Linked DNA regions of Homo sapiens: region 2 is linked to region 1. The links come from fine-mapping of genetic effects on gene expression. A gene starts in region 1. The other region holds a variant in brackets. All regions are shown on one strand. Distances are between the middles of the regions. Region 1 holds the start of ATOSB (atos homolog B). Region 2 overlaps PHF24 (PHD finger protein 24).

What was found. PIP is the estimated chance that this variant, and not a neighbour inherited with it, causes the effect.
Region 2: its variant is the best candidate, but not a certain one, in a credible set for the expression of ATOSB in whole blood (TOPMed, PIP 0.53).

The regions. Positions count from the first base shown.
Region 1 is chr9:35,113,107-35,118,474 of GRCh38, forward strand. It overlaps ATOSB (atos homolog B), which reads right to left and starts at 2,756. Exons shown (of 9, transcript NM_025182.4): 1 at 2,699-2,756. RefSeq lists an enhancer at 738-1,567 and a silencer at 2,901-2,960.
Region 2 is chr9:34,974,077-34,979,444 of GRCh38, forward strand. It overlaps PHF24 (PHD finger protein 24), which reads left to right. Exons shown (of 8, transcript NM_015297.3): 4 at 2,076-2,154; 5 at 2,459-2,664; 6 at 3,007-3,167; 7 at 3,470-3,565; 8 at 3,939-5,368. The coding sequence ends at 4,035. Among named protein-coding and RNA genes, the nearest start is that of DNAJB5-DT, 13 kb to the right of the region's middle. The variant C/T (reference allele first, on the strand shown) is at 3,280.

The sequences.
Region 1 (5,368 bases):
ATGTAAGAGCCTACTTGCCTTAATAAAAACTTACTAGGAAAACAGAGACGTAGAACACTGTAGGAAAAAAATAATCCCTTAGCAACCCCACCTTATTCTATCTTTCTGCCACTACCATAGGCCAGGCCTTGGTTACCTACAAAGGTCAGAGGACAATAGTTCAGGGTGAAGGATCAAAGATGTTCCAGGCCTCAGTGTACCCTGGGAAAGCAGCAGGGTACAACCAAGAGGACTTACCACCAGGTACGGTGGCTCACGCCTGTAATCCCAGCACTTTGGGAGGCCAAAGTGGGCGGATCACAAGCTCAGGAGTTCGAGACCAGCCTGACTAACATGGTGAAACCCCGTCTCTACTAAAAATACAAAAATTAGCTGAGTGTGGTGGCGCGCACCTGTAATCCCAGCTACTCAGGAGGCTGAGGCAGGAGAATCACTTGAACCCAGGAGGCGGAGGTTGTAGTGAGCCAAGATCGCACCACTGCACTCCAGCCTGGGTGACAGAGTGAGTGAGACTCCGTCTCAAAAATAAATAAATAAATAAATAAATAAATAAATAAATAAATAAATAAAGAGGCCTTACCTTCCTGCCCTAAATTTATCCTGCTTTATTTTTTTTTATATAGCGGTTATCACTACTTGACTTCTCCCTCCCCCTCCACAATTTCTTTCTCCCCTTAATAGAATGGAAGCTCCATGAGAGCAGCAACTTTGTTTCGTTCATGCTCATATTCCCAGAGCCAACATTAGTCCCTGGCAATGTTCAATAAACATTGACTGAAGAAAACAACAGGCCCTGGGCTGAGTGAACAGCAATCCGGCGATCTGGATCCTATCTTCTGCCCTTTCACTGTGACATCTGGGGAATCACAGTCTCTTTAGCCATAAATTTCCAAACCTGTAAAATGAGGTGTTTGTATAAACAATGACTGCTGAGGGCCTCTGCAGCTCTACAATTCTAATGACTGTTGTTCACTCATCTCCATATCAGAGGATAGCTCCAGGCATTCGAATGCTCTGCTGCCTGTACCAAAGCAGAAAGGCTATATCCTCCAGTCTCAGCACAGCAAACTGATGCCCTTTCTCTTCATGCCCCACCCACTCACACAAACCGCCCCAGTCCTGAGGAAGCTGGAGAGTCTGCCCTAGGCCCGCCCTCTCTGAGAGACTGTCTGGGAAGCAGTGTTGCCATAGCAATCAGCTCCTCCTCAAAAGGCTTCAGCCTGCCCTTTTTTACCCCACCCTACCCCAGGGCTTTGTCTGTCCTCAGCAGACCCACCCCCCTCCCCAGCCAGTCTCTCAGCTCCTGGGTGGTTGTGTGAGGAGGCTGGCTTGGGGCCCCTTTTAGCAACACTGTCACACTCATTTAGCCACTGTGTGGAACTCAAGCCTTTCCCACCCTCTCCCAGCCAGCCCAGGGGCAAAAAGAACTCTAGCACTCCATCAAATCCCCTCAGGGAAGCAGAGGAGCCCTCAAGAGAACTAGGTCCTAGCCTGTTCTGATAGTGCTTCCAAGCCTGGAGTGTGGGGAGCCACTCCCTCTTCCTCCCCTAGCTGTGGCTGGAACCTCACAACCCTTACTGGGTTCAGCTTACAGTCGTGGCCCACCTCTCAAAACAGACAGAAGACCCTCAATACTCCTCACCACTTCCCCCCTCCCACAGAAGCCCTAGCGTTCCCTACCCAGAAGGATAAGGGTGGGGAAAATCTGTTTGTGGCAAGTGGTTAAATGTGGCTACCAGTCACTTGGGGATCTATGCGAGAGACCTGGGTGGTAGTGGTGGGGGTGGGGTCTGAGCCCTGCCGCTGGTTACCAGGGTCTCTGGTCATTGATAACAAAGTACCGGGCAGGGCACAGCTCCTAGATGGGCAAGGGCCAGGCCAGGCCCTGGGGCAAGGAAGGAAGTGGGAAATGAGCACACCCAGAGCATAAGGGCAGGGCGGGGGAGGGGGGAGACAGAGACCAAGGCCGGCTCTGGGAGGAACAGGAACTAGGATGGGGGGTTGACAGGAACCCAGCGGGGGAAGGGTCCCCCGGGACCTCAGCTTAGGGAAGAAACCCCAGTCTCAGCTGGACAGATCCAAAATAGACTGAGGAGACATTCACACAAGCCCTAGTGACAAGCAGGGTCTGACTCCTCTCTGAGTGCCCAGGCCAGAAGGCGGAGTTAAAAGCTGAGCAGACAGGAGTGCAATAGATTGGCCTCTTCACCCCACTAACCCCAACACCCTTGCTCTTAGAACCCAGAACACAAGTGTCTTCCTGTAGTTACTACAATGCCCTAAACTGTTACTTTGTCAAAGTACTGGGGGTTCTGTTCTCCTGCCTCAAGTTGGGCCTACAACCCCTTCCCCTAGATAGTGCCCGCAGACCCTCCGACACCGCTACACTCCTTCTCCATTAAACAGCCCCCCTTCCTTCAAAGCACCTCCATGTCCCCTGCCCCTCATGTACCTCCTCCAACCCCCCACATCAGACAGAGACAGCCCCCTCACAATGTACCTCGCAACCCCCCCACAACAAAGCGCTCCCGCCCTTCCCCCATAGAGGCCTCTGGAGAATGCACCTTGTTGCCCACACATTGAGTCCCCAACTGCTCCCGCGACTTCGTATCTTCCCTCAACACACAGCAGTCTCCAGATCGTCTGCAAAGCGCACCCCCATCCGCGTCCCTTCTTCCACGCTCACCCTGCCCCACACCTGTAGTTCCGTGGGTCCCGTTGCACTTGGGGACGTGGTAGTGGTTGGGGCAGTTACTGAGCAGCCCTAGCTGTAGCCTCCGCCTGCAAACCTCGCCCCTTCAGTCTGAGCCCCGCCCCCGCAACGCCCGGGCCCACCCTCTCCCTTGTCCCACCTTCCACCTTCTGTGGACTTGTCCCTTTCCTCGTTTAATTTCTCGAGCTCCTCCCCTGTAGCCCGGGCCCCGCCCCCTTCTGACCTCGCACCTCCTTCGCGTTTTCTTTGCATTTCCCCAGGATCCTCAGCTTTTCCCAGGCCCCACCCCCGATCCCCGCCTCCTCTCGGTCTCTCCGCCTTTCACCAGGACCCGCCCCCTCGGATTCCAGCCTGGCAGAAGTCGCGCCAAGACCCTTCCACCACGATCCCCCTCCCATCTCAGAGCCCCTCCTCCTTCCGCCCCTTCTCCCTCACGCCTCACCCGGGCGGTCGCACTCCAACCAGGATCCGCTGGCTCTGATTGGCGGTGGCGGCCCCAAAGGAGGAAGGAGGAGACAAAGTGATGGTCGCAGGTCGCCTGAGGTCCCACCCCGGCCACGTGCGGCTTCTGTGATGACAAGTCTAGAGGGGCGGGGCCTCGGCCGGCAGGCTGCTAGCCTGAGCGGAGCGGATCAGGGCAGAGGTGGGGAGATGGAGCCAGGGCCAAAGCCACCAGCCTGAGGGCTCTGAGCCGGGTTGGGGCTATCTCGCTGCTTTCGCACCGGTGTGAGCTGCCGCCGGAACTCTAACCTCTTTGTAGGGATGTCTGGGTGGGCGCGTGCATTTGCACTAATAGGGGAGGTCCGTAGGGATTGCAAGGTAGTGCAAGGAATCTCAGGGGTCTGTGAAAATGAGGGAATCTGGGCGGTGGGGTTCAGGTCTGCGAGGTTGAGCAGTTTCTGAAGCCTACGCTGTGCAGGCGGGTGTGGGTTCTGGGATGGGATGGACAGTAGGAGTCAGATCAGTACCTACTGAGGCAGGTCAGCGAGATCTGTGAATTTTACGAGATGAGTGTTGATATGGAGTTAGGAGGGCCTGCAATTGCTGGAGAAAAGTGAGGCCTTTCCCTTGTACAGGTGTCTAATGAACTGCATGACAGTTACATATGTTCTGCAGTTTAAGCGGCGCCCTCTCCAACCTCTCCCCAGGAGATACAATAAGGGAGGGCGACGCTTCCCAGACACCGGTAGATGGCAGCACAGGACACTTGCAGAACTGAGACAGCCCAGCTCAGCGCCGATCTGTGGCCTCTCCGAGGAGCGGACCGTTTGGGTCTGGATTTGATCAAGTTCTACAAAAGTCACATTCTTTTTTATTTTTTTTTGAGACGGCGTCTCGCTCTTTCGCCCAAACTGGAGTGCAGTGGTGCGATCTCGGCTCACTGCAACCTCCGCCTACTGGGTTCAAGCAATTCTCCTGCCTCAGCCTTCAGAGTAGCTGGGATTACAAGCGCGCGCCACCAGGCCGGGCTAATTTTCGTATTTTTGGTAGAGACAGGTTTCACCATGTTGGCCAGGCTGGTCTCAAATTCCTGACCTCAAGCGATCCGCCCGCCTCGGCTGCCCAAAGTGTTGGGATTACTGGCGTGAGCCACAGCACCCGGCCAAATCTCAGATTCTTTAGGCTCTGTGACTTTGTCAGTAGTTAACTTAAACTGGTTTACTCAACGTCAGTGGTGTGGAAGCGCAAAAAAAAGAAAGAAAAAAGTATTTTCTCTGGCCATAAGGAACTTATTATTTAGACAGTGATACAAATGCCTACATAATCCCAGAAGGGTAAACTAAGAAAGGTTTTGGGTAGTGGGAAAACCACAGAGTTTGAAGTCATCTAAACTTCTTCAACTTCAACTTCAAACTTCAACTTATGGGTTCAACTTATGAGTTTGTCTCATACCTTTGAGTATTTACTAGCTGTATAGATTTAGGTAAATTATTTGACTTTAAAAAATTAATTTTAGAACAATTTTAGATTTACAGAAAACTTGTAAAAATAGTGCAGAGAGTTTTCATATATACCCTACACCTAGTTTCTCCTATTATTAACATCTTTCCTTATATGGTTCATTTATTACAATTAATAAGCCAATATTGATACATTAACAATAACTAAAACCCACACTTTATTCTGATTTTCTTTTTGTTTTTTTGAGACGGAGTTGTCGCTCTTTCACCCAGGCTGGAGTGCAGTGGCAAGATCTCGGCTCACTGTAACCTCCACCTTCTGGTTTCAAGAGATTCTCCTGCCTCAGCCTCCCGAGTAGCTGGGATTACAGGCATGTGCCACCACGCCTGGCTAATTTTGTATTTTTAGTAGAGATAGGGTTTCTCCATGTTGGTCAGGCTGGTCTCGAACTCCCGACCTCAGGTGATCCACCCGCCTCGGCCTCTCAAAGTGTTGGAATTACAGGTGTGAGCCACCGCGCCCGGCCTATTCTGATTTTCTTAGTTTTTGCCTTATGTCCTTTTTCTGTGCCAAAATCTAACCCAAGCTGGAACATTACATTTAGACATCATGTCTCCTTTGGCTCCTCTTGGCTGTGACAGTTTTTCAAACTTCCTTGTTTTTGATGACCTTAACAGTTTTTGTTTTGTTTTGAGACAGAGTCTTGCTCTTTCGCCCAGGCTGGAGTGCAGTGGCACGATCTTGGCTCACTGC
Region 2 (5,368 bases), 140 kb before region 1:
CACTGCAGCCTTGAACTCCTAGACCTAAGCAATCCTCCTGCCTCAGCTTCCTCAGTAGCTGGGACTACAGGCACAAGCCATTGCACCTGGCCCCACAGCCAAACTTCTTAAAAGAATTTCACCATCTCCTATGGTTTTTCAACCACCTATCATATAATCTGACATCTGCATCCATCATTCTGCAGAACTGTTGCTTCCTAAGGTCACCAGTCACCTCCTAATTGTCAAGTCCACTGACCTTTTCTGAGGCATCTTCTTACTTGATCTCTCTGAAGTATTTATTACTTCTTTATTCCTCTCTCTTTTCTTTAGGATTTAAGTATTTTTATGAGAATTATTGCATAAGATATGGAAATGAGAGAAAATAGAAAGTCAATAAAATCCCACCTCAGTGGTGTAACCACCGTTAACATTACCTCCCACATTCTGCAGCTGTCTTTGCTTGGTATCCAGTACCTTCTTCTCTACTGATGCTCTTCCAGCCTTAGTCTCTGACCATTCTTTCTCAATGCCCTTTGTTAGTTTCTTGTCTCAGTCCTGTTTCTCAGGGTTCTGTTGTTTAATACTCTTCTTTTCTCACTGCGCCCTCTTTGGTGACTTCATCTACAGCCACCATCTAAACACTAATGACTCCTATTTCTGTGTGTCCAGACCTAAATTTCCTGTCTCTTGCACTTATCCACCTTGATATCTCACAAGTACTTCACACTCATCATGCCCCAAAATGAACTCATCTTTGCCCCCAAACCTGCTCTTCCTCCACTCCTTATCTCTGTGAATAGTAATACCATGCCCCAGTTACCAATTCCAGTTCAATCTCTCCCTCATGCCTCACATCCAGTGAGTCATCAGGTCCTGATGATGCTGCCTCTAATATCTCTCTTCCCTTCTTCATTCTCATGTCTCAGTTTAGCTGCTCATCATTTCTTGCCTGGACTGTTGCGGCAGCCCCCAACTGCTCTCCACACCTCCAGACTCTGCCGCTCTAATCCATCTTCCACACAGCAGCCAGAGATCTGACCACGGCACTCCCCACTTGAAAACCCTTTGGTGGCTCCCTTTTGCCCTCAGAATAAAGGCCTAATTTGAGGGGCTCGATAAAGGGTATTGGAGGTACTTCATAGTAGGCCCCCTCCTTCCCTCACACACACACTCACATGTACTCCAAACCTCAGCCACACTGAACATCTCACAGTGTTACACACCACTGTGGCGCCCAGTGTTTACTAGGTGCTCAGTAGGTGTTTATTGAAAGTATGGTTTGAAAGAAAAATACAACTATTATATATTAGTTTTTAAAAAGTGTTATGGAAGAAAAAGAATGGTTTGAGTTCTTTATGAAATCCACGTATGAATACTCATGAAATATCTGCTCTTGTACTTTGCGGGTATCTCAGAGGAAGAAAATGACCTTGTACTAGAAAGGATCTTTGATAGTTTAAAGACTGTATGGTAACGTCAACACAATAAGATATTGGTGCTCCTTTGGAATTAAAACTTCTGTGGCACTACAAAAAAACTCATTTGGCTTTAGGAGCCTTGTAATAATGGCATCTTTTAAAACCATTCTGGGGTTATTTAAAGTGATACAACCCACTTGGAGCAGAGCTAGGATTAAACTTTTTTTTTTTTTAACTAAAATACATTTTTAGCACAGCCTAACACAGAAGCCAAGTAGATAAAAGGGATGGAGATGGAGCCGCTCTGCTTGATGGAGATAGGGATTCACAACCTGCCTACTCACTAGCCCCCTTATTCCCTGCAGCAGCTTCCTAAGGCACTTCCAAGAAATCCCTAGGTTAGCTCAGAGGAGAAAACCACTGTTTTAGTAAAGGGACTCAGTGCTGGAGTCAGGATATCTGGGTTCTTGGGGAAGATTCTGCCCCAGAGTAAAGACAACTCTGGCCAAGTCCTTTCTCCTCTCTGGGGCCTCAATCTCATTGATTGTGAATAGGAGGCTGGGATTAGATGATCTTGGAACTGCTTTCCAGTTGAAATTCTATTTCTAGCCCCCTTGACCCTGGCCTTTCTTACTGGCCTGTATGGCCACCGACTCAGCTCTTCCTTATTTTCAGGACAACATCAACTTGCTGCTTACTGAGGAGGAAATGTATAGCCTCACGGAGACCTTTCAGCGGTGTAAAGTCATCCCTGGTAAGGTTGGGTGGTGCTGCATGGATGGAGAGGGGCCGGGCAGATTTCTCCTTCAGGCTTTCTAGAATGAACCATGAAAGGAGTGTTCCATATTTAGTGGGTAGAGGGTAAATGAGTCCTTGTTCCTGAGTTGTTGGCCAGCAGAGTCACCTATCCCTGTCACAGCCTGGGTGACCCTGGCCATGGGAGGCAGAGACTTAGCAAGAGCTGTGGGTTTGGGGGCCCCGAGGGTGCCCTGGAGGTGATGGAGGTGCCCTGAGGCTGAGGAAGGATGGGCATGGCTAGCACGGGGTGCCTCCCACAGATTGCTCCCTGACACTGGAGGACTTTCTGCGTTACCGCCACCAAGCAGCCAAGCGGGGGGACCGTGACAGGGCCCTGAGTGAGGAGCAAGAAGAGCAGGCGGCCCGCCAGTTTGCTGCCCTGGACCCTGAACATCGAGGCCACATAGAGTGGCCTGACTTCTTGTCCCATGAGTCCCTCCTGCTTCTGCAGCAGTTGCGTCCCCAGGTGAGGGCCAGTTGGGGCAAATGTTCCTGGGATACTGGGTGACAAGGGCCTGGGAGGCACGCTGGGCAGATTGGGGGAGCACTGGGTCCTGCTCAAGCAGGGACAAGTATCAGGAATGGGCTCAGGTTCCATCCAGTGACAGATGATCTGGTGCCCAGGCTGAGGAAACTGCGTGAGGAAGACTGATCTGCCCTGGGCCGCACTGGAAGTGCTGATGCCTCCAGAAGGGCTCTGGGCAGCTTCTAAGGGAGGTTGCAAAGGTGGTAATGGAGATAGGATTCTCTATGGCTTGGCAGTTTACAAGATATCTTCACCTCTAAGATCTTGTCTCTTCTTCCCCAGAACTCTCTGTTGAGGCTTCTGACAGTGAAGGAGCGGGAGCGAGCCCGAGCCGCCTTCCTGGCTCGGGGCAGTGGGAGCACCGTCAGTGAGGCAGAGTGCCGCCGGGCCCAGCACTCTTGGTTTTGCAAACGGTTCCCAGAGGCTCCTTCCTGCAGTGTCAGGTCTGCTCCTTACCAGTCCTGGTCCCCACTCAGCCTCTCCTCCTCCCTTTTCCATGCCAGTGGCCCTTCCATACCTCCCTGCTCCCCCTGCCAACAGCCGAGAGAGGAGCCT[C/T]CTGTGCATTAGGTAGAGGATGGTGATGCCTACGGGCCAGGGCATAGGACAGCCTCTGCCTTCAACTCGGTGTTGCCACATGTCAGAAGAGCCTGGATGAGCATGTCCAGAGCCTTGGGCTTACCAGAGTTTGGGAGGGGGCAGGCATTTCACTATCCCACTCCTAACCACGTGTCCTCATGCCCAGCAGCATCAGCCATGTGGGTCCCATCGCAGATAGCAGCCCAGCCAGCAGCAGCAGCAAGAGTCAGGACAAGACCCTGCTGCCCACAGAGCAGGAGTCCAGGTGAGTAGGACCTCCTCACCTGGCCATTTGTACCCTCTGAACCCCCACAAAACACACAAGTAAGAGAGGGCATTACCCACTCCCACTCCAAAACAGCAAGCGCCCACCCAAGAAACCAGGCTCCAAGAGTGCACATTTGACCCAAGTCTATAGGACCAGCCAGCTGGTCTGTTGGCCTGGTAGCACAGCCAGCCATAGCCAGGTCAGGCATGAGCCAAGCTTCCCTGAGTTTTGTGTAGCTCAAGCCATGCTGCCCCTGGGATCAGGGCTCACGCGTCTTCAAACCAGCCTCCTCAAGCCATGCTGCCCCTGGGATCAGGGCTCACGTGTCTTCAAACCAGCCTCACGACTCTGTTCTTTGCTTCCACTCCAGATTTGTGGACTGGCCTACCTTCCTGCAAGAGAATGTCCTCTACATCCTGGCTGCTCGCCCCAACAGCGCAGCCATTCACCTGAAGCCCCCAGGATAGCATGGAGCAGAGAAGCTCGGTTTGAGGACAGTGACATCCTCTCCCTCCTTTCCTTTCTCCCTTCCCCCACCAACCTCTGGCACAGAGACTCATGGGGTTGGGACACTGCCAGCGTCTTAACTTGTCACTAAGCTTTAAGGCACTGAAATCACCATTCCCCTCACAATAGAGGCAGTGAATGCATTGCCACAAGGAGAAGCCCTGGGAGCTGTGGCAGCATCCTCTCCTGGACCGCCCCTGCCCCACATCATAGACGGGACCTGCCACCACACTTATATACATGTGCACATGCTGCCCAGCTGTCCATGCCTTCAGAAGCCTGGTTCTTTTTGGTTGAGAAAGGACCAAAGTCCCTTTGTGAAGCCCCTGGTATAGAGGAGGGGGTCTCTACTCACCCCTTCTATAGGCAGGCCAGTTCTAATTTCCAATAGATAAGTCTCTGGCCAAGTGATTCTTAGGAAGGGGGCATGTCAGACTCGCATGCCTGCCTAGAGCTCCTGGAGATCCTAATGGGCCCCGCTTTCTCCACCAAAAATCCCTTCTGCAGTCAGCTGCTGTTACTAGTAGGTGTGCATTATGTACCTCGGCTGTACTGAGTTGGGAAAAGAGTTAAACATCACCACTGAAATTCAGCCCTTTATTTATTTAAATTCCAATTCCTGGTGACAGAAAAGGCAACTAGCCTGGAGAATCCTGACTGGAAGAGGGGGAGGCAGCCCTTCCCAGGGACTCGGGATTCTAGGAACCTCTCAGTCAGGTCACCTGAGTCCAAAAGTCTTTAGCAGGGTAGTCAAAAATCAAGGTGAGCCTTCTTGGCCCCATTTTTCAGATGGTAGCTCATGGCCTAGGGCCAAGGGGGCCTGAATGGAGCAAACACACTGGCAGGAGCCACAGCCCTCTGTGTTAGATGCTTCACCCAAGTCACCGACCACAGAGACTGACGAGAGCACACTCTGGAGGAAGAGGAGAGAACGGGGCTCTGCTTCCTCATCATTCCAGCTCAACTCAACTGTAGACACCTTCCACAGCCCAAGAAAGATCTGCAGAGCCCTGAGCAGGGACTCTTTCAGCCATCCTGACAAACAGGATAAGAGGCTGGGGCTTAAGAAGAGGCTCTGCAGAGAAGGTCCTGGGAAAGCCTTACAGAAGAAGTTTTCCGCTTCTCCCTATCACTGAGACTCGGCTTGAGTGGCTGCTTCTCCTCACTGCTCATCACATGTCCTTCCCCAGCAGGCTAGGGCTTGGGCCTGGCATGGAAGGCCTTTTGGGGCAATCAGAGGCTGCCACAAGAGCACCAAGCCTGGCCTCCAAGCCCCAGCCCTCCTTCCTAAGT